Linked DNA regions of Homo sapiens: region 2 is linked to region 1. Evidence: fine-mapped expression QTL. A gene starts in region 1. The other region holds a variant in brackets. All regions are shown on one strand. Distances are from middle to middle. Region 1 holds the start of PLEKHH2 (pleckstrin homology, MyTH4 and FERM domain containing H2). Region 2 overlaps PLEKHH2 (pleckstrin homology, MyTH4 and FERM domain containing H2).

What was found.
Region 2: its variant is fine-mapped to the expression of PLEKHH2 in tibial nerve (GTEx, PIP above 0.99). The same link has a PIP of 0.9 or more in esophagus muscle, lung, sun-exposed skin, thyroid, transverse colon and unexposed skin.

The regions. Positions count from the first base shown.
Region 1 is chr2:43,634,366-43,639,748 of GRCh38, reverse strand. PLEKHH2 (pleckstrin homology, MyTH4 and FERM domain containing H2) reads right to left here and starts at 2,489. Exons shown (of 30, transcript NM_172069.4): 1 at 2,370-2,489. RefSeq lists a silencer at 2,256-2,585.
Region 2 is chr2:43,708,650-43,714,032 of GRCh38, reverse strand. It overlaps PLEKHH2 (pleckstrin homology, MyTH4 and FERM domain containing H2), which reads right to left. Exons shown (of 30, transcript NM_172069.4): 12 at 3,907-4,043; 13 at 3,703-3,813; 14 at 3,458-3,544; 15 at 1,650-1,808. Among named protein-coding and RNA genes, the nearest start is that of C1GALT1C1L, 35 kb to the right of the region's middle. The variant G/A (reference allele first, on the strand shown) is at 2,414.

The DNA.
Region 1 (5,383 bases):
GGAGGCAGAAGTTGCAGTGAGCTGAGATCCTGCCATTGCACTCCAGCCTGGGTGACAGAGTGAGACTCTGTCTCAAAAAAAAAAAAAAAAAAAAAAAAGTGGTACATCCATACAATGGAATATTATTCGGCCATAAAAAAGGAATACAGTACTAATACACGCTATAGTCATGGAAGAGCCTTGAAAACATTATGCTAAGTGAAAGATGCCAGACACAAAAGGCCACATATTGTATGAGTCCATTTACATGAAATGTCCATAAGAGGCAAATCCAAAGGACAGAAAGTAGGTTAGTGGTTGCCAAGGGCTGTGAGGAGAAGGTAGCAGATACTGACTACAATGGATAGGGGGTTTCTTTTTGGGGTGATGAAAATATTCTAGAATTAGATATTGGTGATGGCTATACAACCTTGTGAATATACCAAAACCCAGTGAACTGTATACTTTAAAAGGAAAAATCTTATAGTTTGTGACTTATATTAAGATCTCAATAAAAAAGATCACATATTTACAAATGACTAAAGAAAAAGTCGCAGTTTAAATGGATGTATACTAGGACTGCATTTACAAATTTAATCAACCATTATTTGTGGTTATCCCTGCCAAGAATTTCACAATTAGCTCAAAAAATTGAGAGGTAACTGTTAACCCCAAATATGAAAAGTATCATACATATATCTTACCTAGCGCACTTTGCTATGATGACATAATAAATTAATTCAAAGTCAAACATACCTATTTCTTTAGTTATGCTAATTATATATTTTATAGTGAAGTAGCAAAGCCTTAAGAATATTATTAAATTGGCATTTAACATCTACATTCCCTATTAATGGGTCATAATAAATCAGAACTGCAAATTGGTTGGATAATGGTCTGCACTGAGATCCAGACACCTGATTCCCTCATTTCATTCTGTAATTTCAGTTAGTTAACAAGTACAAAGCAACTGTTGTATTAGTGCACCATCTTGGGTAGTTAAAAATTCTAATTTTAAACAATATCCGCCATCCTTTTCATTACCACTAATGTTATAGAACTATATAACATTGGGAATATATATATAACTATATAACATAGCCGACTGCTAAATAAAGAAAATACCACATATAGATTCTGAATTTGAAAGGAATCTATCATGTCTAGATTCTGCATTTGAAAATAATCTATCTTCACTTCAGGGGACAGGAAAAAGTCTTGGAGTTCCAAATACCCCCAGTGATTTTTGGAAGTATTTACTGACATAAGATAAACTGTTTACAATTGTGGAGTGAATGCTCTTTTCTCTGAATCTCTGACTTCCTGTTTCTCTTCCAAATCCCAAAAAGGAAAGAAAAAGAAATGAAAGAATTATTCTACTTAGGCTTACCCTGATGAAGCGCAGCGTTAGTCTCTATGATATTCTTTAGTTTTTGCCTCTTAAGGGACAGCTTAACTGGGCTGGGTAATCGTGTGTGTGAGTGTGTGTGTGTGTGTGTGTGTGTGTGTGTGTGTGTGTGTTAAAAGATCTTTCTCGACGAGACTGAGGCATGCCTTGTTTAAGGAACCTTCTGACCACCACCTAGCCACCTAGCCCCACTTGGGCAACGCCTGCCCTTCGGTGACCCTGCCCAGAACAGCCGAGCTCCTCACTACATACTCCTCTGGGACACACCGCTGTGCGGGCCAGGCTTCCAAGACTGGCATTTTCACAAAGAAAGCAGTGACCCTCAGGTAGCCCACCACCAGAGCTTTTCCAATGTAAGTGGTTCGACTTCTATTTCCACAGCGTTACGCACAACAATATCGACGGGTAAAAAGTGTTGTCCTTTAAAAAGTGCCCCACTAACTTCGGGGACAGTGGTTTCCGGGTAGGTCACCTTAGGGTGCTTTGACGTGCCAGCAACTCGAGGTGTACAAAATGCTTCTTTAAAGTTTTGAGTTTAAAGTTTCGCCCCGGAGATCCTGGTGGATCTCCCGAAGCCTAAGGCGAGCGCGGCATCCCTGACCGCGCGGGTCCCTCGGCTCGGGGACCCTGGGCTGCCCCGCTGCGCCCCCGGGACCGCTCGCGCCGCGCCAGAAGCCCGGGCCCAGTGTTTCCAAACAGAACGTCACGGGAGCCCACGGGCGCGAGGGACCGCCGGCCACCGCCCCCTGCCCACCTCTCCCGGCGACATCCAGACTTGGGGGCCGACTCTGGGCTGTGGCGGGAGGTGCAGCGGCGGATCCCGAGTCAGCCCGCTCCGTCCCTCTCGTCCCCGCCTTCCCGCTCCTCCCGGCGCCCCAAACCTCGGCCCCGCGAGCCCCCCTGGACGGGGCGCCCTCAAGGGGGCGGGGATCCCAGGGTGGCAGGAACTCTGGAGTGGCCCCTCGTCCCCGGGCTTTCTCACCTGTCTATCTCAGCAGCGGGTCCCCGGCCGCAGCGCCCGATGTCCCGGCCGCGACTGGCCCCCGGGATCCCCGGACTCTCAGCCCGCGCCCGCCTCAAGCCGAGCTCGGAGAGGGCGGGGAAGGGCACCGCCTCCTCCAGGGACTGGCAGCCGGTGTAGCCAATGGGAGACCACAGCCGACCACCGGGCGTCACCGGGGGTGTGGCTATAACTTTGGCTCCTCCCAGTCCCTGCCCCAGGAGGGAGCTCTGTCCTGGAGTGGTACCCCTAACGTCCCAACTGCGAGACTCCAGAGCTTGCTGCAGCGGCCGGTCACCTTCATTCCACTCCGTCTGCCTGGACTGTTGCAGCACCCTCCCTTGGTCTCCCAGTCTGAAGTCTCTCCTCTTGCCAATCCACCCTTCATCTTCCTGCCAGGTTAATTTCCTTAAGAGCAGTTTTGATGAACAGTGTGCCAAAGACTTTCATTGGCTTCCGTTTGCTTAAATTATCAAGAACAGATTCCCTAGTCTAGTGTTCAAGGTCTCCATCCCGTCTTTTCAGGTTTATTTCTCACAGCTGCCCTTCACACACCTGAGACTACTGCTGTGCACCTCGCCACCCGAAGGAAGTGGCACTAGGAGCGTTTACATGCTATTTCCTGTCTCCACTTCAAAAAGCTCAGAATAATCTTCTCACCGGGCGCAGTGGCTCACGCCTGTAATCCCAGTACTTTGGGGGACCGAGGCAGGTGGATCACTTGAGGCCAGGAGTTCGAGACGAGCCTGGGCAACATGGTGAAACCCTGTCTCTACCAAAAAAAAAAAAAAAATATATATATATATATATATATATACACACAAAAAAAAAAAATTAGCTGGGCTTGGTGGCGCTCACTTGTAGTCCCAGCTACTCAGGAGGCTAAGGCTGGAGGATTGCTTAAACACAGGAGATGGAGGCTGCAGTGAGCCGCGATCATGCCACTGCACTGGATCCTGGGCGACTGGGCGAGATCCTGTCTCAAATCATCATCATTATCATCATCATCATCATCATCATCTTCTCCATGTAACTATGTCTGTCGCTCCACCTGGCAGAAATGTCGTCTCTGGGCCGGGCGCAGTGGCTCATGCCTGTAATTCCAGCACTTTGGGAGGCCGAGGAGGGCAGATCACGAGGTCAAGAGATCGAGACCATCCTGGCCAACATGGTGAAACCTGGTCTGTACTAAAAATACAAAAATTAGCTGGGCGTGGTGGTGCACGACTGTAGTCCCAGCTACTCGGGAGGCTGAGGCAGGAGAATCGCTTGAACCTGGGAAGCGGAGGTTGCAGTGAGCCAAGATAGCACCACTGCACTCTAGCCTGCCTACAGAGCAAGACTCCATCTGAGACAAAAAAAAAAAAAAAGGTCTTCTCTGGTTTCTGCTCCCTGAACATCTAGATTTTTGCCTCTCTTGGGGCTTAGCTCCCTCTGCCTTATGCACAGCTCCTCACATCTCTTTTAGACTGTGAGCACTTTGAAAACAAGGATTTGTGGTTTTTTTTTTTTTTTTGCATTCTCCTCAGCACAGAGCATATTGCATAAGTAAATTAGTGATAATTTAAATCCAGGTGAATTTTACATCCCAACTTAGGGTCTGGAGAGGTCAATCTCAGGGTAAAATAAAGAGAATTCTGAATGTTATGGATAATCGTTCCCCAGGTCACAAAGCTAGGTCAGACAGATTATTCTCTTTGGTTCACAGTTGGCCAATAGAGAGTATCAGAAAAACTTTTTCTACTACAATCTTTTTTTTTTTAACTTTATCTCATCTTATATAAAACACACACACACACACACACACACACACACACACACACACACACACACAGAGGATGGGCACAGTGGCTCATGCCTGTAATCCCAGCATTTTGGGAGACCAAGGCGGGCAGATGACTTGAGGTCAGGAGTTTGAGACCATCCTGGCCAACATATCGAAACCCCATCTCTACTAAAAATACAAAAATTAGCTGAACATGGTGGCATACGCCTGTAATCCCAGCTATTCAGGAGGCTGAGACAGGAGAATCGCTTGAGCCAGGAAGGCAGCAGTTGCAGTGAGCTGAGATCGCACCACTGCACTCCAGATTGGGTGACAGAGCAAGACTCTGTCTCAAAAAAAAGGAAAGAAAAAACCACAAAAGAGATAAAGATTTTCAAAGTTTCTCAGAGGAAAAGCAATAAGTGAATACAACTAAAAGTCCAGTAAGCAAGTATCAGGCTTTCATATTTCTTCCAGATGAGCATTAATTTTGAACAGGATCCCAGACTACCCCCACACATCAAATTCCTTTTGCCTTCTGTGGGAGCTGATGATGCATATCATATGAAAAATTGTCTTCAAACAGCTTTGGCAAACAAGCAGACTGGACTGGGCTTATTTTATAGAGCACGCAGGAGTTAAACAAACAGAGTTTCAGTAACTTGCATAATTTAACACAGCAAGTCAGTAGAGACCAAGCAGGAGAAAGAGAGAAAGAATGCCAAAATAGAATCACTTCCGTTTGTGAGTCAGAAATACTAATTAGACTAAAAGAACTGAGTGAATAAAGTCACTCATGAAAAGCCGCTTTGTAAACACGGCTGCCACCCTTGTAAGGCTTAGCCAATATTTACTTACTGTCACCTTTTTCTAGAAACATGACAAACTGAATTTGTCTGGGTATGGAGAATACAGCGGAACAGCATCCTATCTTTGTCTATGCTGAGAAAAACACATGGTACAATGGAATATTATTCAGTGGTAAAAAGAAATAAAGTACTGATACATGCTACAACATTGATAAACCTTGAAAACATTATACTTAATGAAAGAAGCCAGTCATTTAAAAGGCACATACTGTAGGATCCCATTTACATGAAATGTTCAGAACAGGCAAATCCATAGAGACATAAGTGGATTGGTGGTTGCTTAGGGCTGGGAAGGATCGGGGTGATGGCTAAGACAAGTGAGGTTTATTTTTGCGATAATAAAAACATTTATGGTGATGATT
Region 2 (5,383 bases), 74 kb before region 1:
TTCCCTAACCCATCAGTAACTAAGAAAACATTTTCACAGTCGTATTTTAGAAAAAACATAGTACATAGTATATTTCTTTGTTTAATGCAATAGTGAATTAAGTTTTACCTTTGCTATAGTTGGTCAGTCTTTTTAAATATTATGGAATAACACCCACCTACATTCCCACATTAATAATAAGTATAAACTACACAGTAGCATAGTTACTTTCCATCTAATTTTCCACCTCTTACATAATCAGAGTACATGAATGAGGAGTGATTATGTGTGTATACATATTTTGTTGTATTTTTCAAAAAGTGACCAATAGGACTTTTTAAAACTTAAAAATAATATTAAGTCAATACTTACTCATTGTAAAAAAAAAAAAAACAGAATTAAGCAAAAATAAATAAAATCACAGAGATAACCAATATACTTTGGTATATTTCCCAGACATTTTTCTATAAATACTTACAACAAATAAGGTATAATAATGTAATACTGCACTCTACTTATTACCTAACAATACATCATATTTCTATAGCATTAGATATTCTTTTACAACATTTAAAAGGCTGCATAGTAAAGCATTATATGGTTGTACAAACATTTTTTAAAGCTATACCTTACCCTACATCTAATTTGATCCCAATTTTTCTTTATTATGAACCATGCTGTGCAAGGAATCTTTCTGGGGTAATGGAAATGTTCTGCATCTTGATAGAGTCAAAAGTAAATAGCTTTCAAAACTAGTCAAACTCTACACTTAAGATCTGTGCATTTCAGATATATTAATCATACCTCATTTTTTAAAATAGGAAAAAAAACATGCTGTGAGGAACATCTCATAATTAAATCTTTTGCAAATTAAGACCACTTCCTAAGGATAAATTTTTAAAACTGAGATTGCTGGATCAAAGGAGATATATATGCGTGTGTGTGTGTGTGTGTTGATTTGATATTGATTTGTTCACTCAAAATTATTGGCTAAGTTAACACTTCAGCCAAGATATTGCCAAACTGCCTTTTAGAGTAATGCTCTCACTAGCAGATTTCTTTTTTTTTCTACTGCCTATGTAATTGCAGAAACTAGCAGATTTTTTAATCTGTGTCAATACTAGGTTTCAAAATTTGTAAAAACGTCTTACTTTTCACCAGATTTTAAAAAGTGCCACCTCTTATTTCAATCTGTGCTTTTAAAAAAATTGAGTGACAGTAAAATGTTTTTCCATATGCTTATTGATCATTTGTATTCCTTCTAACCTCGATGATCTCTCTTTCCTGCCCATTGAGTCTTTTGTTCCTTTTCCCCCAATTGGTGTTCATTGTTTGCTTACTGATTAGAAAAAAACGTGTTAAATATTAATGATATTAACCAGTTTTCACATGTTTCAAATACCTCTTCAAAGTTTTTCAATCCTTCTTTTAAAAATTCTGCTCGTAGAATTTTTAATAGAGCCTTTACATTTTTACATATTATAGTCAAATTTGTCTTCTTTTCATCTTTATAGTTTTTGCCTTGGGCATCATACTTAAAAACACCCTTTCCTATCCCCAAGATCATATCAATATTCAATATATGTATATGCTCTGACATCCCATTTTCAGCGATCATGGGCTCATGCCCATAGCTGCCTGGGACATTGCTATGCACAGGAGGTTCCTACCTTAGTGAGCAATCCCTTCATGGTGGGTTTGCCCTCAGGCTGCAGGGAAAGTGGGTTGGCAGCTTGTACTCGAAGAACATTCTGTAACACTTTAATCCACTCTTCCAATATATTGGGAGAATCTGCAGTCAGATAGTATGTGTGTTTTTCAGTGGTCAACTAGAATGCAACGAGAAAGGTATAGGAAAGAAAACTGTGAAGATTTAGGATTGTTAGCATTTCCTTGTTCATTATTCAAACGTCATTACTTAACACAGAAGCAAACATGCTAAATCTCAAGTCCCAGTTTCTAAATAAATGACTCCATATCAGTTAGAATATTTTAACCACTTTGTGAGAATTACAGCAATTAAATTTTTGTGGAAATAACTTTGTTACTCCAGTTTACCTAATTTTGGGGTTATGATTTTATATCTTGTTTATTTGTCACATTTTCCCTTTCTTGCTTAAATGTGTTACAGGTTCCTACTTTTCTTTTTTTTTTTTTTTTGAGACAGAGTCTCTTTCTGTCGCCCAGGCTGGAGTGCAGTGGCGCCATCTTGGCTCACTGCAAGCTCCGCCTCCTGGGTTCACACCATTCTCCTGCCTCGGCCTCCCGAGCAGCTGGGACTTACAGGCACCTGCCACCATGCCCGGATAATTTTTTTTGAATTTTTAGTAGAGACGGGGTTTCACCGTGTTAGCCAGGATGGTCTCGATCTCCTGACCTCATGATCCGCCTGCCTCAGCCTCCTGAAGTGCTGAGATTACAGGCGTGAGCCACC[G/A]CGCCCGGCCAGGTTCCTACTTATTGAAATGAGGAGCAGAATGATTAAAGACTATAATAAAATAGCATAGTTTTAGCAACTAAAGAAGAGGTTTCTTAATACAAATGACAAAATCAACTATAAATAAAATAAGAAGATCTTGCATATAAGAAGATAAATTATTGGAACGAACATGTGATTAGATATTATGAACTCAGAATGTTCCAGTCTCAAATTAGCCACACTGCAAATTTTCCAAATTTCAGAAACTTACAAATGATTCTTAACTGCCATGCCCAAAGACAAAGCTTTCCTTGATTCTCCTTTCTAAATTTTTGAGAGGTTTTCAGGTACAAATCACTGGAAACATTGATAATGTACCTTTCTGGCAAAGTTGTCCTCCACCCTCCAAAGGAGCAATATAAGAAAATAATGGTTATTGAAGACATTTCAGAAATAAAGTGTCTGACTTTAAATTACATATACTAGAATATCTCAACAGCCTGTGTTTTAAATTTAACAGATTTCTGGCAAGACTGGCCTTATGTGTGAGTAAAATGGGCAGCAGCTGCCCCTACAGTGTGACTTGCTTGGCAGCACACTCCCTCTGCTCACCAATATATTTCCCACTTTGGTGTTATGGCATCTGAAGTTCATATAAGAACTGTCATTTTCAGATTCTATATTAAAATACAAACATTCCTGAATTTCACAGTACATTATATAACTAACATCTTATTGAGAATTCATTTACCAGATAACCCTTCCTTAAAATAGCTTCACAGTTGGACAGCTGAAAATACCTAGGAGATTAAATATGAGGAAAGAAGAGTATAAAGGAAGAAAGGTAAAGTGTGGTGGGAGTTACTCAACACACACCTAACTTACATTATAGTTTTAACCAAAAATTCGTGGAGTTTCACATACTTCCAAGGCATCAAACTAACCCCCCAAAGTGAATAAAGAAACACTGAATTATCCTATCTCCTTTCCATTAGGTTGGATAATTGAGAATTGAGTCTGGCATGATACAAAAAAAAAAAAAAAAAAAAAAAAGTTAAGTACCTGAACTGTTTGTTTGTTATCTCCTCTTAAAATACTACAGGATGCACTAAGTTCAATATGGCCCTGGGGTTTTCTAATTACATCACTCTGTATGAAACAGAAAAACAAATGGAAAGTGATTAACTTTAACAGTAATAATAAGGAATGCTTTGTATCATTACTTGCATTATGGGAAGGAAATCAATCAGGCGTCTGATTTATAGTTTGAGGAATTACGTTCTAAACAGAAAACACTTTCCACTCACCGGAGATTTGTAGTAAAGTAATTCACCACCTTTAAGAACAAACCACCGCCGCTTCCAAGACTTGACTTTACCACTCATTTTTAATAAATAACCAGATTTTTCCAGTGGTTCCTAATTTTTAAAAGATAGACAAAAGCATTTTCAGTTTCCTTTTGGAGGCTCAATCTGACTGACTGCTTTTTAAAAATCATATTCAATATTTACATTTTTCCCATTATCACTGGAAGATGAGCAAGTTTTTGGGAGCTTCTGCTCTGGCTGTGAGTACTCCGTGTCTGTGGAGTAAGCATCAGGAGGAATAGCATAATCACTTTCAGAAGCCACAGAGGAGAGAGACACACCTAAGAGAACAAAGAAAGAAATCAAGTCAGTATTTAATACTGGGGAGGGCCAAACACCAGCTCTGAGTGCTCCTACAGAATGCAATTATTCCTAAATCATAAGCCTCCCTAGACTAGATTTATTCTCATTCCTTTGGCCATAAATAACTTTTTTTGAGACAGAGTCTCGCTCTGTCACCAGGCTGGAGTGCACTGGCACAATCTCGGCTCACTGCAACCTCTGCCTCCTGGGTTCAAGCGATTCTCCCGCCTCAGCCTCCCGAGTAGCTGGGGCTACAGGTGTGCGCCACCACGCCCAGCTAATTTTTGTATCTTTAGTAGAGATGGGGTTTCATCATGTTGGCCAGGATGGTCTCGATCTCTTGACCTCGTGATCCGCCTGCCTTGGCCTCCCAACATGAAGAACTTTTAAAGCAGAAAACAGAACTAAGAGGTAGGGACTGTCATGTAAATCTCTAAGGAAGTGAAAGGAACAGGAATAATATTTTGGTATGATTACAATCACACAGCTATTTTACATATATAAAATATATGCAAGAGTCTACTCATGTATATTTTATTAAGAATTAAAAATATGTGTATTTACACATTGACATATAGGCAAACAAATGTTGAACCTTAATTTATCAAGATTTTCACAATCACATTTTAAATTTCTTAACTTCTGTAATCACTTTTAAAGTAACCTCACATTTTAAAAAAACACAATTCAGTAGTATTTTTTCATTCAAGTTCCATAAGCTACTAAGCAGTTTACAGATTTTAAAAATATTTCATAAAAGAGAAACAATAAGATTGAAAGATATAAACAAACTATTTCTTTCACTTGCCAGCAGCTATAACATAAAATTCAATGGAACATTTATACAATGATTCATTTGCCTTTACAGAAAACTACCTGGGAGTTGCAAGCCACATTTCATGAGTCACTACAATTGGAGATTTAGAATATATTAAATAAAATCAAGGACTTAGGTAATTATTTATAAAAGTATCCAGCAATTTTTAAAAATATGTATTAACATTTAAGGGACATATTAGAACAATGCCACTCTTGTGACACTGCTTTTTATTTGACTCAGACAAGTAACAGTTGCTATAATATCTTCATTTTTCATAGAATAAACAAAAATGTAGACCTATAGGGACCTCAGTGATTGTCATGGCTAAGGCCCAAGGAGACTAAGGCCCAGAGATTAAAGGATTTGTCCAAAGTCAAAGAGTTAGGCAGGGGCAATGTTGGAACACAAGTCTCAGGCTCCCAGGACCAGGGCCAGTGTGCCAGGCACTGTCCTAGATGCTAGGGATAGAGCAAACAACAAAAATATTGGCTCTCGTGG